7 linked regions of the Homo sapiens genome follow. The protein of the gene in region 2 interacts with the protein of the main gene of each other region in a pairwise test. Each region holds a gene or a part of one and is shown on either strand. Other genes may lie near its edges.

The links.
Region 1: the proteins of NME7 (region 2) and TNNI2 interact in binary tests that used the Homo sapiens proteins (3 or more experiments, as listed by UniProt).
Region 3: the proteins of NME7 (region 2) and OFD1 interact in binary tests that used the Homo sapiens proteins (3 or more experiments, as listed by UniProt).
Region 4: the proteins of NME7 (region 2) and RUBCN interact in binary tests that used the Homo sapiens proteins (3 or more experiments, as listed by UniProt).
Region 5: the proteins of NME7 (region 2) and CARD10 interact in binary tests that used the Homo sapiens proteins (3 or more experiments, as listed by UniProt).
Region 6: the proteins of NME7 (region 2) and CCDC88B interact in binary tests that used the Homo sapiens proteins (3 or more experiments, as listed by UniProt).
Region 7: the proteins of NME7 (region 2) and SYCE1 interact in binary tests that used the Homo sapiens proteins (3 or more experiments, as listed by UniProt).

Annotation. Positions count from the first base shown.
Region 1 is NC_000011.10:1,837,317-1,841,849, reverse strand, and holds TNNI2 (troponin I, fast skeletal muscle), read right to left. Parts: upstream 2,870-4,533; 5' UTR 2,817-2,869; intron 2,382-2,816; exon of another isoform or gene 2,323-2,381; intron 2,176-2,322; 5' UTR 2,154-2,175; coding exon 2,146-2,153; intron 2,002-2,145; coding exon 1,995-2,001; intron 1,644-1,994; exon of another isoform or gene 1,627-1,643; coding exon of another isoform or gene 1,612-1,626; intron 1,448-1,611; coding exon 1,406-1,447; intron 1,323-1,405; coding exon 1,194-1,322; intron 1,032-1,193; coding exon 942-1,031; intron 820-941; coding exon 643-819; intron 395-642; coding exon 299-394; 3' UTR 172-298; downstream 1-171. Other genes in the region: SYT8 (synaptotagmin-8), read right to left, coding at 4,419-4,533. UniProt on the Homo sapiens protein: Troponin I is the inhibitory subunit of troponin, the thin filament regulatory complex which confers calcium-sensitivity to striated muscle actomyosin ATPase activity.
Region 2 is NC_000001.11:169,361,298-169,365,197, forward strand, and holds part of NME7 (nucleoside diphosphate kinase homolog 7), read right to left. Parts: intron 1-3,900. UniProt on the Homo sapiens protein: Possesses an intrinsic kinase activity. Displays 3'-5' exonuclease activity with a preference for single-stranded DNA. Does not seem to have nucleoside diphosphate kinase activity.
Region 3 is NC_000023.11:13,737,436-13,741,335, forward strand, and holds part of OFD1 (centriole and centriolar satellite protein OFD1), read left to right. Parts: intron 1-1,410; coding exon 1,411-1,479; intron 1,480-1,566; coding exon 1,567-1,597; intron 1,598-1,608; exon of another isoform or gene 1,609-2,778; intron 2,779-3,900. UniProt on the Homo sapiens protein: Component of the centrioles controlling mother and daughter centrioles length. Recruits to the centriole IFT88 and centriole distal appendage-specific proteins including CEP164. Involved in the biogenesis of the cilium, a centriole-associated function.
Region 4 is NC_000003.12:197,702,137-197,706,036, forward strand, and holds part of RUBCN (run domain Beclin-1-interacting and cysteine-rich domain-containing protein), read right to left. Parts: intron 3,040-3,900; coding exon 2,956-3,039; intron 2,566-2,955; coding exon 2,406-2,565; intron 1,519-2,405; coding exon 1,412-1,518; intron 1-1,411.
Region 5 is NC_000022.11:37,505,721-37,509,620, forward strand, and holds part of CARD10 (caspase recruitment domain-containing protein 10), read right to left. Parts: intron 2,963-3,900; coding exon 2,807-2,962; intron 2,235-2,806; coding exon 2,109-2,234; intron 664-2,108; coding exon 472-663; intron 1-471. UniProt on the Homo sapiens protein: Scaffold protein that plays an important role in mediating the activation of NF-kappa-B via BCL10 or EGFR.
Region 6 is NC_000011.10:64,346,661-64,350,560, reverse strand, and holds part of CCDC88B (coiled-coil domain-containing protein 88B), read right to left. Parts: intron 1,231-3,900; coding exon 1,103-1,230; intron 1,011-1,102; coding exon 893-1,010; intron 1-892. UniProt on the Homo sapiens protein: Acts as a positive regulator of T-cell maturation and inflammatory function.
Region 7 is NC_000010.11:133,555,354-133,559,253, forward strand, and holds part of SYCE1 (synaptonemal complex central element protein 1), read right to left. Parts: intron 3,599-3,900; coding exon 3,524-3,598; intron 2,862-3,523; coding exon 2,814-2,861; intron 2,566-2,813; coding exon 2,511-2,565; intron 1,804-2,510; coding exon 1,714-1,803; intron 1,470-1,713; coding exon 1,406-1,469; intron 695-1,405; coding exon 628-694; intron 551-627; coding exon 427-550; intron 355-426; coding exon 244-354; intron 86-243; coding exon 1-85. UniProt on the Homo sapiens protein: Major component of the transverse central element of synaptonemal complexes (SCS), formed between homologous chromosomes during meiotic prophase. Requires SYCP1 in order to be incorporated into the central element.

The sequences.
Region 1 (4,533 bases), on a different chromosome or scaffold from region 2:
CCCAGGCTCACCTCCTTGCTGGAAGCAGCTTCCCTCCCAACCTGAAATCCCAGGCCCCGTGTGGCCTCCTCCCAGGCTTTCCCCGCTGGCCACTGACCACACTGCAGGCCACCGATGCGGGGGCCCAGAGCATGGCCCAAGAGGCTGGGGAGAGCCAGACCAGACCAGCCATGGGGATTCAAATCCTTTATTGACGGTGGTGGTGAGGCCAGCCCTCCCTGGCAGGCTCTGGGTGCATCTCCCTAGTATGTTCTGCTGGGAGCCGGGCACCGGGGCAGGCGTAGGGGCAGCGAGTGGCCTAGGACTCGGACTCAAACATCTTCTTCCGGCCCTCCATGCCAGACTTCTCCTCGATGTTCTTCCTCCAGTCACCCACGTCTCGCAGGTCCCGCTCCTGTGGAGGAGAGGGCAGGAGAGAGCTCAGGCTCACCCACTTATGCACGCACCCTGGTCCACACCACCTTCAGCCTCAGTTTACCCTCTGCATTGGGCAGTGGAGTGTCCCCTGCATGGCACCCTGGAGGGGCAGTGGTACAGGGCCCCCGGCAGGGCAGGTGTGGGAGGTGGTCCCCAGGCGGGGCAGGTGTGGGAGGTGCTTCCCCGGCAGGGTAGGTGTGGTGGTGCTCCCCCCGTGGCACGCACCTTCTCTGTGTCCTCCTTCTTGACCTGCTTCAGGTTGGCCCTCAGGTCCATGCACACCTTGTGCTTCGAGCCCAGCAGGGCCTTGAGCATGGCATCGGCCGACATGCGCACCCTCCGCAGTGGGGGCCGCTTGAACTTGCCCCGCAGATCAAATAGCTTCTGGTTCATGTCCTCCAGCTGTGGGCAGGGGAGCCGGGTGGGAGCCCGAGGTCCCGGTGGTCTCGGCCTCCCCGGCCCGCCCCGCCTGCCCGCTGGGCCACCGCCTACCCGCCTGCCGCCGGCCCGCCGCCACCACTCACCTCCTTGCTGGTCTTCTGCACCCTCACCTCCATGTCGTACTTCTCCTCTTCAGCCGCATCGATCTTGGCGTGCAGCTGTTTGCAGAGCTCCTAGGGGTGGGTGTGGGGGCGGGCGGCCGTCCTGACACTTGGCAGCCACGGTCACCTGCCCCTGCCCTGACCACCCCACTGGCCCTCTTGACAAGTGGGGAAACTGAGTTAGCAGGCAGGCCTGCTGCTGGGGAGGCGGGGTGGCCGGGGAGGGGCTGGTACCTGCACTTCAGACATGGAGCCCGGGATATGCAGCGGCGGGCAGTGCTCCGCCAGGTAGTTCTGCTTCTCTGCCTCACGGCGGCTCTCCTCCTTCTCCAGCTCCGTGGCCGCTATCTGCAGCATCACACTCTGCGGTGGGGCAGGCGGTGAGGGGCTGCAGCCAGCTCCCCTGCAGACCCACCTGGGCCACCCCCCCGGGAGCCCACACCTACCTTCAGGTGCTGCCTGCGGGCCGTGATGGCCCTGTTCCGCTTCTGCAGGGCAGGGGACAGGGGGTCGAGTCAGGGCCTCCAGGCCTGGAGCACCCCCACCCCCTTCCACGCTCCCTGGCCAGGTCAGGGGCTCCGGCTCCGGGACCAGCAGAGCCTGGGGGCTCCTGAGGCCATGATGGGCAGGCTGGGCCTCCCTGGCCCCAGACCTTGCACTGGGACATGGTGCTGTGTGGTGTGTGACACTTTGCCAGGTGGCACATGGTGCTGGGAGGCCAGAGGCTGGGGGAGAGGAGGGCCAGTTGGGGGCAGGTCGGCCGGTGAGGTGGGGGCGGGAAGTGCAGGAATCAGAAAGAAGAAGTGATTCCCCTGTGACCAGGCCACAGCCACACTTCCCCTGCCCCAGAAGGCTTGGGGCAGCCACTTCCTCTCTTTCAGCAGCGTCTTGGTGGGTGGGTGGGGCACTTTTGCCAGCGGGGAGGGCCAGGCCATCTTCTCTGGGCCTTAGGGCCTTGAGGCTGTGACCTATGACCTATGCTGAGTTGGGGGAGCCCCCTCCTCGTCATGTTTTGAGCCCCCAGCAACTACTTACCTCCTCACTGTCCAGGGAGGGAGGACGCAGGCAGGACGGGGAGAGAAGACAGAGGTTAGGGCCATGGCTGGCGGGGTCGGAGTGTGTGATGGGGTGGACAGGGCAGGAGGTGGGCAGGGTCACTGTATGGGGGTACAGGGGTACCACTTACTCTCCCATCCTGAGGTCCTGAGCTTGGAGCCTGTGGGGAGAGGAAGACAGAGGTGTTGGCCAGGCCCTTGCCACCGTGATGCCTGTGCCCATCAGGTAGGTGGTGAGGGGTTCAGGGCTCCTGATGACAGCCCCCTCCCGCCCACCCCCTACTCTCACCTCCTCCCCCTACTCTCACCTCCTTCAAGGACAATGTCTTGGAATTCCCCAGGGTGAGAAGTAAGAGGAGAAAGTGTTCCCAAAATGTCCCAGGCATAGCCTGAGGAGCTGCAGCTGTCCCCGAGGGAGGGTGGGATGGGCCAGCGCAGGTGGCCGCCTGAGTGACGCTGTTATTTTTAACCCTCTCTCTTTGGCTTTGGGCCTAAGTGCATGGAAGAAATCCCTCCTCAGTTTGGCCTGGGGGCTCAGGTTCTGGGGCTTCTTGACCCCTAAACTCTCCTTCCAGGGTCCCCAGAGGTGAAGCCTGGTGGTCAGGGAGTGTCTAATACCTGCCTCTCGCTACAGCTGCCTCCCCAAAGCCTCTCCTTCTCACTCCCGGACCCGTGCAGGCCCCAAAGGGGGCTGCTGGTGGCATCCCCCAGGCCCCCAGACCCCCGCCCCAGGAAGTCCTCCCTCAAACCAGCTCGAGCCACGCCCTGTCCCCCGGCCTCGGCGGGCCGGGCTGGGCCTCACCTAGAATCTGGGCAGCAGGGCTGGGAGCGAGGTCAGGCCGGCAGCGGCGAGTTGGGCTGGTGGGCCCAGGGGGAGGGGTATAAATGGCCTCCCCCAGGCTGGGCCCCTGCTCAGAAAGGGCATAGAGTCCTCCTCAGACCAATGGGGGCGTGGAGAGCCACAGAGACCTCCCCACCTGTCCGGCCGCCTGGCCTGGCCGCGTGCTGCCGCCCAGTCCAAGAAGTCTTGGTGGGGGGTGCCGTGGCTGGGCTACTCTATTTAGGGCTCGGTGACGCGCTGGAGATGCCTCTGTCGTTCTCGTAAGGAGCCTGAGGACAGTGTCCCTGGCTTTGCCTGTGGCCTCAGCCGGGCACACAGCTCGGGTCAGCTGAGGGGTAGCTGCGAGTATCCACACCTCGCCTCAGCCCATCTCACCCGAGGTCAGCGTCCAGTCCACCAACCTGGCTGCTTGCTGGCGACAGCCACAGCCTCTCCCTGCGGGGCCAGCTCCCCGGCTCAGCCCCTGCAATGGGTTTCCCACTTCAGCCCAGGCCTGACCCCCTTCTGCAAGCCTGGCTTCTGGGGTGAGGCCTGGACCTCCAGATGTGGCCTTCTGGGCCCTGCCACAGTGGCCGAGGGCTGGGGGCTGCCCCCTCCCTGCGTGATGCTATCTTCCTGCCTGGGGAGCAGGACCAGGAGTGAGGGGCACGCCGCACGTGCCTCTGGGCCCCTCCCGCCTGCCCAGAACGCCCTGCTGCAGTCCCCTTGCCGGGCGACTTGGAACACATCCTTCAACCTAAGGAGAATGGCGCCACCTGCATTGGGAGCCTCTCACACCCGTGGGGGCTTGGGGCCCTCCTGGCTGCCCGGGCAGGCCTGGCATTGCCCTTTTCACCCAGGCCCGAGGCCATCGCCCCCCCAGCCCCCAGGCCCCCGCCCTGCAGAGGTCCCCTGGACCGTGACTTGGCACCCTCTCGGAGTGGGGGCTCTTGGCCCCAGCCCTGCCGGCTTCGCAGCCCCGTGGGGAGGATCAGAGGAGACAGCAGCGTGGAGGCCCCAGCCGCTAAGGCAGCCCAGATGTGTGGGGACTGGGAGGGGCATCCGGCCAGGACTGAGCCCCTAAAGGCCCCAGCGGCTTCCGAAGGCATCTGCTGCCCCCTGCTGCTCATGCAGGGAAGGCCCTGCAGCACAGGTCTCTGAGGTGTTGGGGGTCCTCCCTCCATGCTCACCAGCCCCCAGACACCATTGCCCACTCTGTCCCTACAGGGCTGGCTCTAGCCCGCCCCATCCCATGTGGTCCCGACTCTCTGGCCCCCACCTCCCCGGTCTTCCCAGGCGGCCCGGAGAGGGGAGATCTGTGCTCCCCGGGGAGGTTCCCCACCCCTACCCGAGGGTCAAGCAGGGACCGGTCAGAGGCCTCAGGGCCTGGCTGAGTCTGGAGAGGAGCCCCTCCCCCGTCCTTGTCAGGGGACCCTGGTGAGCGGGCCCGGGCCCTATTTCTGCATCCCCTCCAGGCTCCAGCCGGACACACAGTGGCAGGAGAAGGCGTTTATTGCAGTGGTCCTGCAGGGCGGCCTGGGCAAGTGCCTGGGCTCAGCGGGGAGACAGAGGCATGTGGTGCATTCAGGAGTGGGGCAAGGGCAGGCGCAGGCGAAGGCGGGGCTGCAGGGCCAGCATGCGGTCCACCTCCCTGGCTGGCCGCAGGGGGTGCCGCTGGGCAATGGGCCGCCGGGCGTGG
Region 2 (3,900 bases):
ATATAACAGGCTCTAAACTGCATTTGTAATACAATATATAGGAAAATAAACTTTTAAGAGTTTCATATCTGCAATTTATGCCCTGTGCTTTCTGATTCACTTTTTGTAAATAAAATCCTGTGGATCTTTGGAACTGCAATTCTTCCAAATCAGCAATTCAAGTAACAAAAGGAATTCTGGATGACTAAAAAGCAGATGCTGTCTGGGTGCCAAGCTTCATGCCTATAATCCCAGCAGTTTGGAAGGCCGAGGCAGGCGGATGACCTGAGATCAGGAGTTTGAGACTAGCCTGGCCAAAATGGCGAAACCCCGTCTCTACTAAAAATACAAAAGTTAGCCAGGCGTGGTGGCATGCGCCAGTAGTCCCAGCTACTCGGGAGGCTGGGGCACAAGAATTGCTTGAACCCAGGAGGCAGAGGTTGCAGTGAGTGGAAATCGCGCCACTGCACTCCACAGCCGGGTCGACAGAACAAAACTCTGTCTAAAAAAAAAAAAAGGCAGGTGCTAAAAACAAAACCAGAAAAGCTATTAGGAGAAACGTCATAAAGTTGGAAACTGAAAAGCATTTCATTTCATGGAATAAAATTTTGTTCTTCAGTAATTATGAAACTGTCTTTGAAAACTCTGTTAAAAACAACTTTGACTCATGCCTGTAATCCCAGCACTTGGGGAAGCCGAGGCAAGTGGATCACTTGAGGTCAGGAGCTCGAGACCAGCCTGGCCAACATGGTGAAACCCTGTCTCCACTAAAAACACAAAAATTAGCCAGGCATGGTGGCACATGCCTGTAATCCAAGTTACTCACAAGGTGGAGGCAGGAGAATCGCTTGAACCCAGGAGGCAGAGGTTGCAGTGACCCGAGATCACACCACTGCACTCCAGCCAGGGTGATAGAGTGAGACTGTGTCTCAAAAATAAATAAATACATAAACAAACAAACAACTTTGAGACATTTTACTTCAAAGGTTTAGATTAGTTCTTATGGAACATAGCTAATAATCTTTAAAGTCCTTTATTACACTAACAGTTCATCTGGAGTAATGATATTCTAATAAATGCTATATTTTAGAAGATACATAATATTAATATCTTTGTCAAATATATCTTAGAATTACCTTCTCTGTCCTCTTTATAATATGTAAAAGAAATTGATGAGTCCAGCATACGCTTCATCTTAAATGAGGTGTATGAGAAACATGCTAAACTATGGTTCCCTATCTCTGCTTCACAATATAAAGGTGATTCCAGAATTTGGAAGCCTCAACTATAACAAACTAGATGAAGACAGAAGCTGATTAGATAAACTGCAGTGGTCAGGAAGCCTCACCAACAGAGCAAACAACCTCCATCTTCAGCTGCTTATTGAGAGGCCATAATCCTTTGCTGCAATACATACAACAGTGGCTAGACTGAACACAGAGAAGGGACATCTGTTTCTTAGGCCTGTTCTTTCTCATAAATGATTGATGGCAAATATGGAGGAGAGTGATCTGGATGCACAAAGAAACTTGAAAATTTTACTCTAGCCAATTTTAGGCTTTCGTTAATTCAAAGCTGTATCTGCCATACAACAAGAACATTTTCACTAGATCAAAAGAGGAATAAGAATATCTGCAGGCCTTGAGATTTCAACTATTTTGCCTTTTAAACTATATATTAGCTGAACGTGGTGGCTAACATAAACATAATCCCAACACTTTGAGAGGCCAAGGTGGGAGGATCACTTGAGCCCAGGGGTCCAAGACCAGGCTGGGCAGCATAGTGAGACCCTGTCTCTGAAAAAAAAAAAAAATTAGCTGGGCATCATGGCACACACCTATTATCCTAGCTGCTCGGAAGGCTGAGGCTGGAGGATCACTTGAACTTGGGAGGTTGAGGCTGCAGTGAGCCATGATCTCACCACTACATTCCTGCTGGGTGACAGGGCAATATCCTGTCTCAAAAAAAATAAATAAATAAAAATAAAATAATAAGATAAAACAAATAAAGTATATATTATTCAAAGTACCCTGTGTCTTGAACTTTGTGGATCAGGACTCACAGTAAGAAATATATTTTACATCAGAATCCAGTACACATCCAATACATATACAATTAAACAAAAGTTCATGAACGTTACCCTTACAACATGTAGTGAATATGTTAAGTTGCTATTTTATGTCATCTTTTTAATGCTGGCTACATACCACAAATTTGAGTAATGAGTCATCAGGTACAGTTTGAGAAACACTGCTGTACGTATACGTGTGGTCTGGCCTCTGCCTACCTCCCTAACCACATTTCATGGTATTTTGCACCATATTTTCCCTACTGCAGCCACCCCTGCACCATCCCACCACCCAGTTTCTATTATTTTATTACATTGAACCATAAGTTCCTAAAATATACCAATCTCTTTTCTGCCTCAGGGTATTTGATCTTGTTGTTAGCGTGGCCTGGACTCCTCCAGATCACTGCACTTTGTATTATATTATGCAGGTCTCAATATAAAAGTTCTTTCCACAGAGAGGCCTTCATTGACCACCTAATTTGAAAGAGCCCCAGCCTGCAATCCCGGCAGGAGGAGTGGGAACAGGAGTTCATTCATTGCCCTTAGCATTCCTGGGAAGTTTGATAACATAATGTAAGACAGGCAAAAACCAAAAACAGTATTGAGCAAATGTCACTTTCTACCTCCCTATGCCATTGCACAGGTCATAGAATTCTAACTATTGAAATTCTATTCCATTTTCTTCATGACAACTTTTCTGACTCTGACTGAGAAGCAGGGACTCAATTGTACAATTTGCCCCCTATTACTTTGTATTCTCTCAGACCACTTAGCGCATTCTTTCTTATTTTGTATTCATTCCGCAAACATTTGAGTGCCTAATATGATCTAGGCAATACTGTGAACAACATAAGCATGAATTCCTCCAACAGTTCACATTTTAGTAAGAGTGACAGATCTATAAACAAATAATTTCAACCGAATGAGGCAAGTACAATAGGAGAGATGTATACTACATAAAATGGTGACAAAAAGAATGAACAATCAACCTCTTTTTCTTTTTTTCTTGATTTCACAGTGTGGAGGGGAAAGCTCTGAATATCTGCATAGATTTTAAATTTGTATTTATTTATACTTTTTTAGAGACAAGGTCTCGCTATGTTGCTCAGGCTGGCCTTGAACTCTTGGCCTCAAGCAATCCTCTGACCTCAGCCTCTTCAATAGCTGGGACTACACACATATGCCACCGCACCTGACTCGACTCAACCCTCTTTGAGTAGGGAAGGAAGGCATCACAGAAAAGACACCTACACTGGGTCTGGAAGTGAATCCACCTTTGCAAAAATTATAACAGTGAGAGAAATCTAACCTAACTGACTCCATATTGCTTCTAACCTCACAAAGCTAACTGCCCTTGCTCATACCTGGGCATAGGCAAGCTAACTATGGGAGAAATTTATAGTTTAACTTTGAAGCAAGGATGGTAATAGTCCCTTCCAAAACTGACCCCCTCTAGGGACTAAAACAGCCTTGTAAGACTAATAGAAGGCCGCAAGGTTAGGACTATGGGAGGGACCTAAAATCTGCTAAAATATAGGCATAGGTAAGCAATAACCAGCTACTGTTCCTTGCTTTTCTATAATTTCTTACTATTCAGAAGTCATGTAGCCAGAGGTCACAAGATTTGTAACTTCACCAATTGCTCCTTTAGATAACATCACTATTGTAAAACCTAAGATTGGTCTTGAGATATTTTCCAGGCTTCTGCATTCTGGCAAACCTCCTGATGCCACCCAGATACATGCCTCATACCAAGAAACTGACTCTACTAGTCCTATGACTCTCACCTAGACAACTGACTCAGCACAGGAAGACAGTTTGGAAACACCTATAAATTCATCCCCAACCAA
Region 3 (3,900 bases), on a different chromosome or scaffold from region 2:
TAAGTGGGAAGTACAGAGAATTCCCATATACCTGCTGCCCCTACACACTCATAGCCTCCCCCACTGTCAACATCTTGCATCAAGGTGGTACATTTGCTACAATCTATAAGCCTACCCTGACATGTCATTATCACCCAGAGGCCATAGTTTACAGTGAAGGTTGCAGTGAGCCGAGATCATGCCACTGCACTCCAGCCTGGGTGACAGAGCGAGACTGTCTCAAAAATAAAATAAATTTCACTCTTGGTGGTGTTCATATGTTTTTACTTTCTTTGTGTTTTCTGTAATTATCCAAAAGTTTCATATTCCAAAGTTTTAGTGACACAAGCTTAGTACAGTATTTGAATGAAAACTTAAATAATTTGCATTTCTTCATAAGCAACCAAATTTTATTTGTCAGCATTAGGAATTTATTTATTAATTTATGTTTTTGAGACAGAGTCTTGCTCTGTTACCCAGTCTGGAGTGCAATGGCGCAGTCTTGGCTCACTGCAACCTCTGCCTCCTGTGTTCAAGCAATTCTCCTGCCTCAGCCTCCCAAGTAGCTGGGATTACAGGTGCCCACCACTACACCTGGCTAACTTTTTTATTTTTAGTAGAGAGGAGGTTTCACCATGTTGGCCAGGCTGGTCTCGAATCCTGACCCCAGGTGATCTGCCCACCTCAATCTCCCAAAGAGCTGGGATAACAAGCATGAGCCCTCGTGTCTGGCCTGGAATTCATTTTTGATACATCATTCTCTAACTTTCTAATCACTTTATACTTTTACTTATTGTGTAATAGTCAATAATACAATTATATAGCAGGAATTAATCCTATTCATACAACTTAACGGTTTCTACTAATGTAAAATGCCCATGCAGAATATTTACTTTAAAGGAAAACCAATTGAAAACAAATATCAGTGTTCTCAGAGCAGACATAGTGAATGGTATATACTGTAGTAGAAATATATTTTAATAGCTACCCAAAATGTCTGTTAAACAATATTTTAAGTACACTTTAATTACGGTTTTAAGGACAGTAAAAATCTATTTACATTTTTAAACAATGAATACTTTTTAAAAAATTGTAATTGAATGACCCAGGAACTCAGTCATGTAGTCATTGGTTCATCAGATATTTCAGTGTCATCTGTAAGGCATTAAACATTTAGGCATATCATCTTTGATGTGAAGTACTTAGAAGTTAATTAGATGATAAAGATATTTTATCCTTTTGACCTTGATATGTTTATAGTAATTTATTTAACAGTGTAAGAAAGAGCTTGAAATTTGCTTTATTAGCATAGTTATAATCTTATTTAATCTGAAGGATGTTTCTTAATTTCATATTCAGAAACATATCCTAATTTATCATTTAAACACTGATATAAAAATATGTCTACTTAGTAACCTATTTTTTCTTAAGGTATTTACTATGCAGGATCTATTACAACTCATTAAAATCAACCCTACTTCCAGTCTCTACAAATCACTGGTAAGATGGCTTAGTTTCTGTAATCTACTTTGGTTTGTTAATTATAACTGAATAGCTGAATAAAAGTGAAATATTTTCTTTTAACAGGTTTCAGGATCTGATAAAGAAAATCAAAAAGGTAGGAGCCGTCATCTTTGTAGAGAACAGCAACAGTTTTCTATGTACTTTTTCCTCTAAAAGAATGAAGCAAATTTTTAGGGAGAAGAGTAAAATTTAATTTGATTTAAATTATTTGATTTCTGCAGGTCATTTCCCCTATATTTCCATTTTTGTAATAACTTTTAGATATTCAATTAAAAAAACTGTAGACAGTATCAAAGGCCCTACAGACAGGCTGAAAGATACTGTTTGTAAAAATACCCACTGTTGGGAATATTTCTGCAAAAAAAAAAAAAAAAAACTAATAACTTTTAGGCCAAGTGTCTTTGTATACTAGGTATCCCTCTCAAGTATAATTGGTAGGGTATTAGATGTATTAATATTTCCTTAAAGAATGAGAGTTGTGTTCAGTAATGTGTTATATATCTTTTGTTCTTAAATGTTTATACAGGCCGGGCGTGGTGGCTCATGCCTGTAATCCCAGCACTTTGGGAGGCTGAGGCGGGTGGATCACCTGAGGTCGGGAGTTCGAGATCAGCCTGACCAACCTGGAGAAACCCCGTTTCTACTAAAAATACAAAAAAATTAGCTAGGCGTAGTGGCGCATGCTTGTAATCACAGCTACTCAGGAGGCTGAGGCAGGAGAATCGCTTGAACCCGGAAGGCAGAGGTTGCGGTGAGCTGAGATCACGCCATTGCACTCCTGCCTGGGCAACAAGAGCAAAACTCCGTCTCAAAAAAAAAAAAAATGTTTATATAGACCTAATAAATTGCCTTAATTTTGGCCTTGATAATAGCCATTCATAGAGTCCATAACTACTGTGGGTTTCAGGCCATTGGTTAGACTTGATGATGGGCTTTGTAGCATGAACATAAGCTGGCAACTTGGCTTTGATGCATAGTTATTCTTTAGGTCTTTTAAAATAATCTGTTAGTAATAGTCCTTTTGTGTTGGTACACCCTTGGATTTTGTCTGTTGCCTGCACTATCATCCCCACAAGGACATTCATTTATTCATCCATTCATTCGCCAATTCATTTAGAACTTAATCATTTGAATACTTATTTTCTGCCAGCCATTAAGTCTGTGACTTAATCGCCAAGTCTCTTGGTAGTAATGTTAGCAGAATATAAATAAATTGGAGCACAAGATATTCTGGACTGCCCGCAAACTAGACCATCTCTACTGAAGTTCAGTATGGTAAATGATCCTATATTCTGTACTCTAAGTGTCGTCCAGTGTGACTCTCTGTGATTATGGAAATGTCTGTGTCTATGCTGTTTAATGTGGTAGCTGCTATCCTCATGTGGCTTTTGAGCCTTGAAATGTGGCTAGTGTGACTGGATAACTGAATTTTTAATTTACATTTAATTAGCTACACTTGCATAGTGACTACCATATTAGCATAATTCTGAGGTATATAGCTAGTATCTTTTGCTTAACTATTACTTCAAAAGGAAATTTGTGGCTTGAAGGGATATTAAGAAATAATCTATGGGCCAGGCACGGTGGCTCATGCTTGTAATCCCAGCACTTTGGGAGGGCAAACCTGGCTGATCACTTGAGGTCAGGGGTTCAAGACCAGCCTGGCCAACATGGTGAAACCCCATCTCTACTAAAAATACAAAAATTAGCCAGGCGTGGTGGTGAGTGCCTGTAATCCCAGCTACTTGGGAGGCTGAGGCAGGAGAATCGCTTGAACCAGAGAGGCGAAGGTTGCGGTGAGCCAAGATAGCGCCACTGCACTCCAGCCTGGGTGACAGAGCTGGACTCCATCTCAAAAAAAAAAAAAAAATCTATGTAGTTACTATAGATACATTATCCTTAAAAGTAGTTTTTCCATGGCCGGGCGCAGTGGCTCACGCCTGTAATCCCAGCACTTTGGGAGGCTGAGGCGGGCGGATCACGAGGTCGGGAGAGCAAGACCATCCTGGCCAACATGGTGAAACCCCGTCTCTACTAAAATACAAAAAAAAGTTAGCCAGGCCTGGTGGCGTGCACCTGTAGTCCCAGCTATTTGGGAGGCTGAGGCAGGGGAATCGCTTGAACCCAGGAGGCAGAGGTTACAGTGAGCCAAGATCACGCCACTGCGCTCCAGCCTAGCGACAGAGCAAGACTCCGTCTCAAAAAAAAAAAAATAGTTTTTACACAGTCTCTTTAAATGCATCTGGTTCAGAAAGACATCTGGCCGACAGCCCTTACCAGCTTCACCTAGCATCCCAGTAAAATTTCTGGAAGCCAGAAAAACTATGAGTAGCAGATAGGTCAGGCATCCTAGTGCCAAAATTTGGATAGAACTCTTAGCTAACAAAATAGCTCCTG
Region 4 (3,900 bases), on a different chromosome or scaffold from region 2:
AATCAGAAGTCAGACAGACTAGGGTTCAAATCCAGGCCCTGACACTTATCAGCTATTTGATCCAAACTTTGGACCACGTATCTACTCTGTGCCTCAGCAGCCTCCTTTATAAAATGAGATCAATGCCCACTTCACAGGGTTATGAAGAGTCAATGACATGATACATTTATCATACATAGCACCGTGCCTGGCACATACAAAGTATTAAATGGATAGTAACCAACAATCAAAATTAAACGAATCAGGCCGGGCACAGTGCCTCACACCTGTAATCCCAGCACTTTGGGAGGCCAAGGCGGGCAAATCACTTGAGGTCAGGAGATCGAGACCAGCCTGGCCAACATGGTGAAACCCCGTCTCTACTAAAAATACAAAAATTAGCTGGGCGTGGTGGCGTGCACCTGTAATCCCAGCTACTCGGGAGGCTGAGACAGGAGAATCACTTGAACCCGGGAGGCGGAGGCTGCAGTGAGCCAAGATCATGCCACTGCATTCCAGCCCAGCCTGGACAACAAAGTAAAGACTCTGTCTCAAAATAATAATAATGATAATAATTAATTAAAAGAATCTGGAGAGATAGGGGATCTGCTTCTCTAAGAAGTGGGGACTCTGATTCCATTCTAGCTAAGGCACTGACTGGAGTATTAGTGATGGGATAAGTTAATTTTAGGCAACAAATTTTCTTTGTACTATAAAATTTTCTTTACATCAAAGAAAAAAACATGAAAAAACTGACCCCGTGTAACATTAAGCTATGCCAGGTCTGACACTAAACTCTATCCGATTCAAAACCATCCCTCTTTTCCCCAGATCTTTGTCAAGGCTTGGTATCCTTTGTCAAAAGATACCACAGGTTTAACAAAATCTACCTCCCCACTCCCCAGCTTAGGTCTACTAAGCACACGACCTAAGCCTAGACTTTCTACTTCAATAGGTACTTAACAGTACCTCCCCTCCTCCAAGCATTTTAAATGAAAGCTGGCCGGGCGCGGTGGCTCAGGCCTCTAATCCCAGCACTTTGGGAGGCCGAGGCGGGAGGATCACGAGGTCAGGAGATCGAGACCGTCCTGGCCAACATGGTGAAACTCTGTCTCTGCTAAAAATACAAAAAAATAGCTGGGTGTGGTGGCGGGCGCCTGTAATCCCAGCTACTCGGGAGGCTGAGGCACAAGAATCGCCTGAACCCAGGAGATAGAGGTTGCAGTGAGCTGAGATTGCACCACTGCACTCCAGCCTGGGAAACAGAGCGAGACTCTGTCTCAAAAAAAAAAAAAAAAAAAAAAAAAAAAAAAAAAATGCAAGCCTTTCAGCTCACAAAAATGGCTAAGTGAAAAAGTTTGCTGTAGAGGGCTACATCCTGCTGAGCTCCAGGGACCCAGCATAGACGTGGATAATTCCTTGTCCCCTGTACCATGGACGCATCGATCTGAGCCAGGAGGCGGGGGTTGTTCTGTTCCACTGCTTCCAGGCACTGCAGCATGGCCGTGACATGAGCGTCACTTAGCAGGAAGGCAGCATCTGGGGAGAGAAAAGCTGCCACAGTGATAGAGCCCATCAGGGAGGCCTTGAGAGAAGCTTGAGGAAGCAGAAAGGGAGAGGTAAGGATGAATGAGGAGGAGGGTGAAGGCAGATCAGAAACAAAGTAGAGGAGAAGCTGAAGAACGCGAGGTGCAGCAAAATGGCCAGGGCAAGAGGCTTCAACGTCAGAAAAATCCAGATTTGAATCCTGGCTCTGAGTGACTTTGGCCAAGTCGCCTAACCTCCTGGAGCCCTGTGGATTGGAAACAGTAGCACCAATGCCCAACTCTCGGGGCTGCTGTGAAGATACTGGACAGCAGTGACGGGCACACAGGAAACTCGTGGTAAATGGTGGCTATTCTTACGGTTTGTGTGTGTGGCCGTAGGGGACGACCTTAACATAAAGCTGGATTGTGTCTTACTTGGGAGGTGAGAGGTAAGTCTGGATATATGTTTCTGAGTAGAATCCCTATGGCATCAAGTGAAAAACAGGAGGCCCTGCCGGGCACGGTAGTCACGCCTGTAATCCCAGCACTTTGGGAGGCCAAAGCGGGCAGATCACCTGAGGTTGGGAGTTCGAGACCTGCCTGACCAACATGGAGAAACCCCATTTCTACTAAAATTACAAAATTAGCTGGGCATGGTGGCACATGCCTGTAATCCCAGCTACTCAGGAGGCTGAGCCGGGAGAATTGCTTGAACCCAGGAGGCGGAGGTTGCAGTGAGCCGAGATCACGCCATTGCACTCCAGCCTGGGTGACAAGAGCGTAAGTCCATCTCAAAGAAAAAAAGAAAAATAGGAGGCCCTGGTACCAGAGGGGTAGAGGATAGTGAGGTGGGTGACAACGAGGAAGCACAGATGACAGTCCTAAGTGGCCTCTACCTACCTGTGTAGAATTTTCTGATATACTGTCTATCCCCGAGCAGGGGCCGGAGCTGGGCTGAGAGGCAGTGGTACTGCAGGCTGTGCTGCAGCCACAGCTCGGCAACAGCACGTTCACTGGCACCATCAGCACTGCTCTGGTCGTTCTCGTGCACGCTGATGAACTGGGAAGCAAAGGGGCATGAGTCAAAACACACATCCTGGTAGATACGGCAAGATTGAGGCCTAATGACCTGAGAACTAAATTGAGACAGGTAAGGGAAATGCTTTGAAAGGCTTCACCCTGGGTCCCATGTAGGCAGGCTTTTTTGAAAATAGCAAAACTTTTTTTCCCTTCCCCAGAGGAGAAAAAGTGGCCTGGACCAATGGGTTTGCATGTTTTTTTTTTTTAAGCAAATAAAGTCAGTCCCTACAGGGATAATTAATTTCCTTTCCTCAGCTGATAGGCAACTGGACATATTCCCTCCTTGGAGCCTAGAAGATTCTTCTGACAGAGCCTCAAACAGTGAAGACCCACAGCTCTGCCAGCACAGCCGCTCTGCTCTCACTCTTACCTTCTCCACGTGAAGGGCTGAGTGGGGACTGAGCCACCGGATGTCTTTCACGAACTGCCAGTAATCCGTCTGGCGGCGGCACGCCTGCAAAGGGAACACATACAATGAGCAAATCACGACCATTCTGGACCAGATCTAGTTCTAGGGTTGGCATTCAAAGATAGGAAAAGGACCACAACCTTCCCTTGCCTCATCAAAGGTTCTTAGCAGCAATCAAAGGATACACACAGAGGCCAGGGGTGGTGGCTCACACCTGTAAACCCAGCACTTCAGGAGGACTGCTTGAGTCCAGGTAGACTGGCCCATCTCTACAAACAATTTAAAGCTTACCCCGAGTGGTGGGACATGCCTTAGTCCCAGCTACTCAGGAGGCTGAGGTGGGAGAATCACTTGAACCTGGGAGGTCAAAGCTGCAGTGAGCCATGATTGTGCCACTGCACTCCTGCCCAGGCAACAGAGTGAGACCCTAACTCAGAAAAAAAAAAAAAAAAAAGAAAAGGAATTAAAAAAAAAAAAGGAATACTACACTTGACATATGTTTACCCTTTTAAAGAATAATTGTTAAAGATTATTTTAACCATTCTTTTGAACAGGTAACATATGCATATGACATACAAGGTATACAGTAAAAATAATGTTTTCTTTTTCTTTTTGTTTGAGACAGAGTCACTCTGTCACCCAGGCTGGAGTGCAGTGGCGTGATCCAGCTCACTGCAACCTCCACCTCCCATGCTGAGGCGATTCTCATGCCTCAGCCTCCCGAACAGCTAGAACTACAGGCACATGACATCACGCCTGGCTAATTTTTGTATTTTTAGTAGAGATGGGGTTTTACCATGTTGGCCAGGCTGGTCTCAAACTCCGAGCCTCAAGTGATCTGCCCGCCTTGGGTCACTTGTGTTGGGATTACAGGCATGAGCCACCGTACCCGGCTGAAAATAATGG
Region 5 (3,900 bases), on a different chromosome or scaffold from region 2:
AGCTCCAGTGCTAGCTGGCTGTGTGGCCTTGGGCAAGCCCCTCACCCTCTCTGGGCCCTGTGCGATGAGAGGATTAGACCAGCTGGTCTCTGAGGGATGCTTAGGCCCATGTTAGTCCTGACTAGCTGGTCTCTGAGGCCCAGGTTTTGCATTCTAACATGCACACAGGCACTCAGGCAGCCAGCCTTCCCCAGTTAAATGCAAAGACCAGCTCCAAACTATTCTTAGTGTCCCAGAAGCAACCCCAGAAACTCAGAGACCAACATGCCCCTCCGCCTGCTCACCAGCCCACACCCAGCCCAGCCTGGGTTCAAGTTCCCGCCCCTAACTGAGGACTCTTCCCACTTCCCCCAAGCTTCCTCCCCTGGCTGAGGTCTCCCACCAGGGCCGGCACGTTCCCAGCCCTGGCCAAGAGCTCCTGCCAGGACCCCAGCCTTCCTGCCAGGACCTCCACAATCTTGACCCGCTCACCTTGAGGCAGGTGCCACCCTGGGCCCGCTGCAGCTGAACCTCCAGCAGAGCCTTGGTGCCCTCCAGGCTGGTGAGCGTTGTCAGCAGCTCATCCCGCTCCGCCTCCAGGCCCCGCACCTGCTTGCGGTACTGGTCCTTCTCGATGAGGCTCTGTGAGTACTGCAACTGGATCCGGTCACGGCTCTGGATGGCCTAGGGTTGGGGGAGGGGAGGCAGCAGCTGAAGGAGCCACCTTGGCCCAGCTTTCCTGGCCTATGACTTGGAGAATGGGGACAGTAAGGAGAATGGCAGCTATCACTTACTGAGCACTGTGTGCCGGGCCCTGAGCTAAATTATCAGCTCATTTAAATATCTTCACACTAACTGGCTAAGTTAGATACTATTAATATCATTATTCTCATTCTGCAGACTGGGGAAACCAAGCCAGGAGCGACAGAGCTGGGATTCAAATCGGGCAGTCCATCTGCAGAATCCAGGCTCTCACCATTTCACCAAGAACTGAAAACTTTTCCACGAGACCTGCTGTGTGCCAGGGGCTTCACTCCCAGCATCCCAGTCAGTGGAGAAGCCAGGAGTCAAACCCAGCCCACTGCATCCACAGTGAAGACCAGGGGCTCCAGAGCTGGGCCCATGGTCCAGACCTGTCACCCATGCCTCAGAGAGAGCCGGGGGCAGCCCCATAAAATGCAGATTCCTGGGGCCCACCCCAGACCACCTGAATCAGAACGTCCAGAGAATGAAGCCCCAAATTTGCACTTTCAAGCTTGCCAGGGGATTCTGAGGGCATTTCTAATATGCAGACTTCGGCTGGGCATGGGAGCTCATGCCTTTGATCCCAGCACTTTGGGAGGCTGAGGCAGGTGGATCAGTTGAGCCCAGGAGTTCAAGACCAGCCTGGTCAATATAGTGAAACCCTGTCTCTACTAAAGATACAAAAATTAGCCAGGAATGGTGGCATGCCTGTAATACCAGCTACTTGGGAGGCTGAGGCAGGAGAATCACTTGAATCTGGGAGGCCTCAGTGAGCTGAGATTGCACCACTGCACTCCAACCTGGGCAACAGAGCTAGATTCAGTCTCAAAAAGTAATAACAACAATAATATACAGACTTCAACTCCTCTAGTGGGATTCACACCTGGTTAAGGACAAAAACCTCCTGCCCTTCCCCGCTGCAGATGGAACCTCACACAAGGAGGCTCGGGGGCCTGGTGGCACTGGCCGGAGGTCCTCAGCCCACCCCACAACCTTGGCAGGAGACAAGGGTCATAGTGCCCAGGGACTGAAAGCCAAAACTTTTGAGAATTTCTTCATCGGCTTCTATTTGTAAGCACTCCCTCTGTGCTGGCCTTGTCTTTGAGATGGACAGAACAAGGGATTCAAAAATGAAGACACCAGGACCAGCTTCTGTAACTGCCACAGGAGCTCAGATGAGGCCAGTGGGTCCAGGGTGTAAGGCTGGTATCTCAAGGGCTCCAGGTCTCCTGTCTGGTTCCCCCAGCCTTTGTGCCCCGTCCTAACCCAACAGGGAGCGGCTAACGTCTCTTTCTACCATTCTAGTCCCCTCCATTGCTCCTTGTCTCCTCCCATATGGGAAGCAGCAACTGGCCCAGGGCCTCGTACACGCAGGCTGGGCTCACCTGGTCTCGCTCCTTCTCAATCTCCTCCAGTTGGGCCAGGACAGTGGCCATGCGGTGCTTGTACAGGTCACAGTCCTTCTGCAGCGTGCGGTGCTTGAGCCGCAGGTCTTCCATCTCCTGCAGGTACTGAGGGTGGCACGGGGCGGGGTCAGACCACAGGGCTGGGGACCATGAGAAAGCTAACCAGCAGGTGCCCAGGAGGGCCAGTGAGAGACGCTCACCAACAGTCTGAGACCCAATAACAAGTCCCCTCCTGCCCAGTGGAGTGGTCTGAGCCACTGACTTTACCTCACAGGCCCTCAACTGCCTAATCTGTAAAACGAGAAGAATGATCATCATTTCACCCATCCGGCCACCCTTGGCCTCCCCACTCAAACTGCAACCGGCCCCTTCCCCAGCTCTGCATCTCCCACGGTGCTCATCGCCTTTGACTACATGAAATAGCTGACGTGGGACTGTGTATCTCACATACTGCCAGTCTCCCCTGCTGGAGTTCCCCCTCAAGGAAAAGGCACCTTTGTTTTGCTCACTGCGGCATCTCAAGCGCCTAGAAGGGTGCCTCCGTCAACATCTGAGAACAAATGAATGCAGTTCTCAGCGCGGCGCCTGCGTCAAGCAGATGCTCAGGGAAGGCGTGAGCACACAGGCCCTGCCTGACACCCTCCCGCACAAGGGGCAGGGCACGGGCAGGGCCCCACCTGGTCGCGCAGCTCCTCGGCCCACTGCAGCTCCCCCTGCACGGCATGCAGCTTCTGGCACAGCTCCTGCCTGCTGTCCTGCGCCTCCCGCCAGTCATGCTCTAGGATGTCCAGCAGGATGCGCTCGGAGCCCGGGGCCCCCGGCCGGCTCGCCTCCTGGGGATCACAGGGCAGGGCCACCTCAGGGTCTGGCTAGGGGCCCACCCTGGGTGTGGGAAGGAAGGGGACACGCAGCTCTCAGCCCTCCAAACCCACCTGACCAGCTCTGCCATGCTGGCCCGGGGCCTCGACCCTCTCTGGATCTCTGTCTCCCCATCGGCAGAGTGGGTGTGGCCCCACAAGCCCTACCCACCCTCCAGGGAGTATCTGGGGTACAAGTAAGCTAATAAGCTAAGTGGAGAAGGGTGTGACTGGACAAGTTCACCCAGGATTATTCCTAAACAAGCACCAGGCACACACTCGTGCTCTGGCCCTCACCCACCATCCAGGGCAGCAGACGGAGGCCATTCCCAAGACCTACTCCCACCCCCATGACTAGGGGTCTTCAAGGGGCTGAGCCTGGCCCATACAGGTAGACCCTGGGCCCAAGATCTTGCCCCCAGACCCACACCCCAGCCAAGTGCCCCAACCCCATGAAACACACTGGCTCTCATCCCCCACTTCCTGTGTGGAACAATGGCCAGGAGGCAGGCCCATGCAGCTGCTGACCTGCCACTGACCTGCCGCAGGACACTAAGCAAGCCCTAGGGCCCCCAGGCCACACCCTCTACAAATCAAATTAAAGCTGGGGCCCTTTCCCCAGAAAAATGCTCACACTCAAAATCAGGGGGGCAGTTTTAGGGAGTTTGAGGACCTTCTGGAGGCTGCTCACACACCCTAGACCAGACAACCAGGGACAGCCACGTGCTAAGGGCCCTCAGCTCAGAGCTTCAGGCAAGAGGCTACCGGGACTCCATCCAGATCTCAGATCCCTGGTTCTGAAATCCTCAGCTTCCCAGGCCTTGGGAGGATAAGCAAACAGCAAGAGGGCCTGTTTTCCGGGTCTGACCCCCACCCCCACTCCATGTCCACGAGCCCTGGCCCTAGTACCTGCT
Region 6 (3,900 bases), on a different chromosome or scaffold from region 2:
GCGCCCACTACCATGCCCAGCTAACAGCTAATTTTTGTTGTTGTTGTTGTATTTTTAGTAGAGATGGGGTTTCACGGTGTTCATCAGGATGCTCTCGATCTCCTGACCTCATGATCCATCTGCCTCGGCCTCCCAAAGTGCTGGGATTACAGGCGTGAGCCACCACGCCCGGCCTGATTTTTGTATTTTTAGTAGAGATGGGGTTTCACCATATTGGTCATGCTGGTCTCGAACTCCTGACCTCAGGTGATCCACCTGCCTTGGCCTCCCAAAGTGCTGGGATTACAGGCATGAGCTGCTGTGTGGGGCCTTCTCTAAGCCTCTGTTTCAACCCCACCTTCTCCACAAAACCTTCCCTGATAGACTCGCATGCACCTGCTGGGTATCTTGCTGGGTACCACCCTCCCAAGCCCCTGCATGGCCTCCTCACAGCCCCTGGCACCTAGTTATTGTCACCTGTTTTCTTGCCTCTATCCTGACTGTCCTGTGAGCTCCCTGAGGATGGCAGCCTGGGATTGGGCCCCACCACCACCCCACCCTCCGTGTGGAGCCCGCACACAGCCTGGGTATCAGAAACCATCGCTGGCTTCCTTGATGCCAAACACTGAGCTCCCTAGGCAGTGGAGGACCTCGGGTGAGACAGGCGGAGCAGTCATCCACAGCAGAAGTTCTGTCCATGTGCAGAATGGGGAAAATGAGACCCCAGATAAGTCAACACGGCCACCTGACTCCCAGCACAGTGCTCTCTCCAACAGGCCCCACATGGGGAGTGAGGCAAGTAGCTAGCCAAGAATCCAGAGGCAAGACTAGGAGGACAGATGACCCTGGCATCTGCTCATGGGATGGAGGGCAGGGTGGCATGGCCCCCAGCTCCCAGGCGGGCAGGCATCACCTGGAACAGCTCCTCTTCCAGCTGCAGGGCCCTGGTCTTGAGCTCCATCAGCGCCTCCTCCTTGCTGGTCGCCGCCGCCTGCAGCTCAGCTTCCAGCCGCTGCTCCAAGCCCTGGTACCTGCCAGGAGAATCCTTAGCACCCAGCCCCACCCCACCCTCGCCCCACCACACCCCTGCCTCCCTCATTCTTCCCCTCAGCCCTGTCCCCACCTCTGGTGCTGGCTTTCCTTTTCTCGCAGAAATTCCTGGCGCTCGAGAGCCGCCTGCTCCAGCTCACGCTGCAAATGCTCCAGCCGGTCCCCCAACTCCTTGCCCCGCACCACAGCTTTCTCCAGCTCCTGAGGGCAAGCAGAGCAGGCTCAGGGCAAGGGGGCAGGAGACAGCCGGAGACAGAGGCCTGAGAGTCAAGAGAGCTGCCTTTCTGTCCTTGACCTGCCATCCTGGGCACGTATCATTAAGCCTTTGGGCTCTACTTCCCCATCTATAAAATGGGAGCAAAGCCTGGGGCCCTTGAAATTGGGCATGAAAGAGCTGGGTGTTGTAAGCCTGGCAGGGCATGAGGAAGGCCCCTGGGCTGGGAGTCGGTAGGTGACACATGTTGGGCAAGTGCCGTCACCTCTCTGAGCCCACGGTTCTTCATGTGCGCAGTGAAAGGTGGATGCGCCCGGTGGGCTGCCACCCCAGCCATGTGACAGCGAGACAGCTAGAGAGGCTCAGCAGAGGTGGGTCGGGTGAGAGACCTTGGCTACAGGGAAAAGGCCACGGAGGGCTGGAGGGACAGGAAGTCAGGAGCTGACAGTGGGGGCTGGGGGGGCAGGGGGCGCCAGGATGCTGCCAGCTAGGTGACCTGTGGCCTTTGGCGGTTGGGCTGCACCACTTTGGAAGGAGACGGGAGGCCCATTCTGGCCTGTGTGCCCCAGAGGGAGGGAGACCAAACCATTCTGCCACATGGGGGGCCTGGCAGGATGAAGCTTCGGGGACAGCTGCCCATGACCAGCTGCCAGCCAAATCCTGCCTTGGAAACCAAGCCTACAAGCCTTGCTGCTGAAAACTACCTTCCTGGCTTAATAACTGCACCTAGGCCTTGCCCAAGGGGCACTGCACCTCCTGACACTCTTGGCCACCACCTCTCCCTGAAAAACTACAAGTCCGATGAGGCACTGCTGCCTGGCTGGCTGACAGCCACTAGCGCAAGTACTGGGGTAGGAGGCACGGTGAATAGAACCTCCCGCCCAGCCCCTGCCCTGCCCTCCTCCGGGCCCTGGCCACAGCCCTCCTAGAACCCCCTCCCCCAAGCCTGGGAGGCTTCCCCACCCAGTGGACAACCTGAGACCCCCTGGTTCCCTGACCTCCCCCTGGCCAGCCACCTTCTCCTGCTCCAACCAGGAAATCTCACAAAATTCCCCCTTTGTCCCTAGCTTCCCCCACCCTCTCAGTCCTTGGAGCCGGCTCTTCCAGCCCGCCAGCCCTACCCTCACCTTCACTGCCTACCTGCTGCCATTCCCTCCCATGGAACAGGTCCATTCTAGGTGCCAGGCATTGCCCCAAGCTCCCTACGCTCATTATCTTACAGGATCCTGTGAGGCAGGTACAATTTTTTTTTTTTTTTTTTTTTTTTTGAGACGGAGTCTTGCTCTGTCACCCAGACTGGACTGCAGTGGCGCGATCTTGGCTCACTGCAACCTCTGCCTCCTGGGTTCAAGCAATTCTCCTACCTCAGCCTCCCGAGTAGCTGGGATTACAGGTGCGTGCCACCACACCCGACTAATTTTGTGTTTTTAGTAGAGTTGGGGTTTTGCCATGTTGGCCAGGCTGGTCTCGAACTCCTGACCTCCGGTCATCCGCCCACCTCAGCCTCCCGAAGTGCTGGGATTACAGGTGTGAGCCACTGTGCCCAGCCAAGGCAGGTACAATTTTTATTCCAGTTTTACAAGTGAGAAAACTGAGACTCAGAGAGGTTAAGTAACTTGCCCCAAGCCACACAGCTGGAAAGTAGGCAGGTCGCCCGGCTAGACAGCATCTCAGCCACACCCCACAGAGTGGACCCCAGAGATGGTCTCTCACCTTCCCTCTCACATTCGCCAGAACCCCCTTACCCTGGGCCTGTCTTGCACAACGCCTGACCCCATGTCTACCCAGCAGTGTTCTCCCCACCCCCCATCCTCATAATGGGTCTCTGAGCAAATTACTCTTCCTCCCTGAATTTCAGGGTCCTTGTCTGTACAGAAATGGGACTGGAAACTGCCTGTGCAGGATGACTCAGTTCCTACCTGTGTTGCAATCTCACAGGTCCCCTAGCACTGGGGCCCATTGGCCCAAACACCCTTCCTCGCGCCTTTTCACACGCAGACCTGACCACTTTGCTCACTTTGCCCATTGGGGAGCCTTCAGTGGCTGCCCAATCCCCCATGGCAAAAGCCCTAACCCCTTCCTTAGCTTGGAAGGAAGCTGAAGCCACGCCCAAACACTGGATTGCTAGCTTCGTGGTCACTGCTGTGTGCCCAGAGCCTGGTACAGGGCCTGGCACCAAGAAGATGCCTGTAAACATGTTTAAATGAATAAGTAAAAGTGTGTTGGCCAGGTGCGGTGGCTCACGCCTGTAATCCCAGCACTTTGGGAGGCCGAGGCGGGCAGATCACAAGGTCAAGAGATTGAGACCATCCTGGCCAACATGGTGAAACCCTGTCTCTACTAAAAATTCAAAAAATTAGCTGGGCATGGTGGCATGCACCTGTAGTCCCAGCTACACGAGAGGCTGAGGCAGGAAAATCGCTTGAACCTGGGAGGTGGAGGTTGCAGTGAGCCGAGATCACGCCTCCAGCCTGGTGACAGAGGGAGACTCTGTCTCAAAAAAAGAAAAGAAAAGAAAAGAAAGAAACTAGCCAGGCCAACATGATGAAACCCCATCTCTACTAAAAATACAAAAATTGGCCGGGCGCGGTGGCTCACGCTTGTAATCCCAGCACTTTGGGAGGCCAAGGCGGGTGGATCACGAGGTCAGGAGATCG
Region 7 (3,900 bases), on a different chromosome or scaffold from region 2:
ATCTCCTGGGCCAGCCTCTTCCTCTTGTGTGCTCTGGGCTTGGGCAGGGACTTGCATTCCATGCTTTTCCAGCTCTTCCTTCAGCCTGGACAGGAAGAGGTAGGATGGGGGAAGGAAGAGGAGGAAAGGGTGGAGGAGGGACAAGAGGTTTTCAAGAGTCAGAGAGACAGAAGGTGGAGAGAGGAGATACAACATCAGTCATCTTCCTGGTGGGGGTTGCGGGGACAGGGCCTCCACACGCACCTCTGCCGCTTCTGCTGCTGTTGTTGGCACTTCTGCTGCAGCTGCTGGTGGCGCTGGGCAGCAGCTGCTAGGAGCTCCTCAGCCTTCCTGTGCTCTTCCTGAAACAGCTGCCTGGGGGGCCCAGTAGGGGGTGGTCAGCACCGGCCACTCCCTCCTCCCACCCTCTTCCCCTCCACATCTTACACTGTGGCTGCAGCCTCCTGGCTGCGGAGAAAGAGTCCCTCATCAAGGGTGGAGGGGCCCTCAGCCCCACACAGGGAGCACAGCTGATGCTTCACGTCTTCCAGTGTCGCCTTGACCAGCTTCTCTGCAGCACAAAGGGGCAGGTGAGCACATGAAGGCACGTGAGGTCAGATATGGGCCATCCACCTTCCCTGGTCTCACCTTCCTTGAGCAGCTGCTCCTTGCTGCTGTCCAGGGCACAAATCTCCTTTGCCAGCCGCTCTGGCATCTGAGGGGCAGAAAAGAGGCCTGTCCACTCCTCTTGGCTTTCCCCCATGCCTCAAAGAAGGCTATCTGGATCTTGTTTCATACTTACTCACTATGCCTCACTTCCAACAACTCTGCCCCTCTGTGCACACCAGCTACAGTACAGCCTCAGGGCCATGGCACTGGCCATTCCCTCCCTGTGCACTTCTGTCATCCCACATCTCTGCGGTACTGCAGTGGGGATGCTCATGGATTGTTATTTACAACAGATAAACCTGCAAGCACTGTGAGTCTTGGCTGTTTTCTGGAGGATCAGGTACCGGTTTAGCTCTGCAGCTCCTCCCCACTCCCCTCTGTCCTGGTGTGACCTCCTCACTGAGCCCTTCCTTCCTGACACTCACTGTCTATTTTCTTGTTCAGTGCCTAGGATCCTCCTGGGGGACAAACACGGGCTGCTTATCCTCGTTGTCTCCTTTGTGCCCGTGATGGTCCCAGACACATCCACGGACAGTGATGGAAGACTTGACCTTGGTCTCATCAGAGATCCCCCTGACCACTGAGCAGCAGGGTCACAAGGAGGTGACAAGGGACTGGATTCAGGCAATGTCGATCTTAGCACCACCAGGGCTTGCTTGGCGACTGGTTGTGGCAGGTGAGAGGAAGAAGTGACCGTTTGGGCCTGGTGCTGCTAGGGAAGATGTGGAAGGGGGAGGAGTGGCTTTGAGGGACTCACGTGGAAGTCCCAGAGGTCCTTGTGCTGGCCCATCAGATCTTCCAGCTGTTCCTCGAATGCCAACCTGGGAACCAACCACAGGCATGAGGGGATATGGGCTGAAATCACCACCTTCACAGCCTGTCCAAGTCTGTGGTTCTTCAGGCAGATTTTGGGGTGCTTTGCCCATGGTCTCTGCTCCACTGGGAACATCTTCACCACCTTGAATCTCCATGGCTCAGTGTAGCCAGCTTTTCTAACCCCCATCTTTGACATTATATCCCAACTACTGGCCATCCAAACCCCCTGCCTCAGATGCTAAGGTTTACCTCAGCTGTCTCTGTTTGTTCTTCTCTTCTTCAATCTGCAAGTTCAGGGCAGAAATTCTCTCCTTGCACTCCTGCAACATGGTGTGCTTCCTGGGAGAGGCGAGGCAGCCCTCAGCCATGTTCTCTTAAGCCCCAGGAGGGCACTGGGCTGGGGCTTCTGCCTCCCTCTATTGAGGCTATTTTTTCCCTCTACATTAAGGTCCTTCTCTGTAACATGTGGTAAGTAGGGAGTGACATGACCATTTGCCCCCTGGAAGTATTGTTGTCAGGTTAAGAGAGATTAATGTGGACATGGTTAAGTGAGCAAATGCACACACATCTTAGTATCATCTCGTTTTCCCAAAGAGCTGAAATCTCAGTGTGCCAGGGCCTGGGGCCTCTGGTAACAAATGAGCTAAATCAGGAGGTGGAGAAATGGATGGACAAATCGATGGGTGGATGAAAAGATAATGGATGAATGGAGAGAGAATGGACAAATGGTTGGCTCAATGCCTAAATGAACAGACAGATGAGTGAATAGACATCCAAGGAGTATGACAAAGAGTAAAAGGCAAAAAATAAAAACCAGCTGAAGAAATTTAATTGACAATTTAGCAAATGAATGTCTTGCCATTGAGAGAGTTTCCCTTAACACTACTGCCAGCTGTTGGAGCCGAAGGGGAAAGACATTCTTTGGACTCTCCATTGTTTAGAGGGAAACAATGAGAGCTGTGGGTCTCAGATTCATCTTCCTGCCTCTTTCTGCTCTACCAGAATAAAGAGGTAGTGCAGAGTTAGGCTCAGCTGGAAGCTCTTACCTGTGTGCCTCACTTTCCTTTTCCTGGCAATGCAGCCGGAGGATCCTCAGGGTCTCTGTAGGGAGAGCAACAGGGCCCTATGAGAACCTGTCAAGGTATTGGGTTTTGGCAGGGGGAACACAGCCAGATCATGTCAGGTCTGTGGACACCTGATTGAGCTTTAACATTTACTACATGTCTGGTGGAAGCCACAGGAGAGAGGCAAGCTGGGACAGGTTTCAAAAGGCTTCAGCTGCCATAGGGAGAGTGGGCTTCTGTGGGTTGGCAAAGGCACAAGCCTGGAGACAGGGGAGCGGCAAATACCTTGTTTTTTGCTCAAGATCTCCTTCAGGTGTACTTTCTCTCCATGCACTAGAAAACAGTGACACATTTTGGCATCAGGGACTATGCACTGCACCCTCAGGGATGGGGCTTGCTCACGGTCACATGGGAAGCTGGGCACAGCCTTGGCCCCAACCCAAATGTGAACCCTTGAGGTGAGCCCCTCCCTACCCTCTGGTGCCCACATTCCTTGTAAGCACCAAAGGGCCTTCACATTTACAGAGGGTGGCTGTGAGGGCCCTGGAGGATGCTCGTGCTTTTACATGGGGAGGAGAGAAAAAATACCAACACCCACGAAGTGGGATAAGGGCTATAAAGAAACACATCAAATAGGATGGGGCATGTGACCAGATGGAGGCAGGGTGCCATCTTTAAATGGGATGATTGGGGAATGCCAGTCATCCTGTCTGGGGACATTCTAACTTAGAGCTGATGATGTGAGGAAAGAGGAACCTGTATTATCTGAGGAAGCACAGACAGCGTCTGGCAAAAGCCCTGAGGTGGGAATGAGGTTGGAGGGTGTTTCCTGAACACTCCCACAAGCAGAGAGGAGAGGGGGAGATTGGCAGGACATGAGGCTAGAGAGGGTACAGGACCCTTGGCCATGGCAAGGATGCTGATTATCTGGAATACAGGGTTAGGGGAGGCTTAAGACACTGTGGGGACCTCTGGGTGACCCCCGGCTCTCTTACGCGAGTCCAGTTCCTTCTGCAGGGCCTCACAGATGGTCCGGGCCTCTCCTAGGTCTTTATTGGCTTTCTTTTTTGCTTCACCAAAGAGCAGAAAAACATTGTGTGAGTGCAGCCTCTATTCTCTTCCCAACAGTGACATTTCTCATTTGCCTTCAGGTAAATCTATAGTGGCCTAGATTTTATAGAGTAGGAAACGAGGCTTCCAGCTCTCCTTGCCAGGCTCTGCTGATAGCAGGGCCAGGATCATGGGCATGTAACTATGGCAGTCGCATGCTGAAATGCCCTGTACTTAATTTAAGGCTCTGCTGTTGCTGTTGTGAATAACCAGTAACTTTGGAACAAGGGACCCTGCATTCTCACTTGGCACTGAGCCCCGC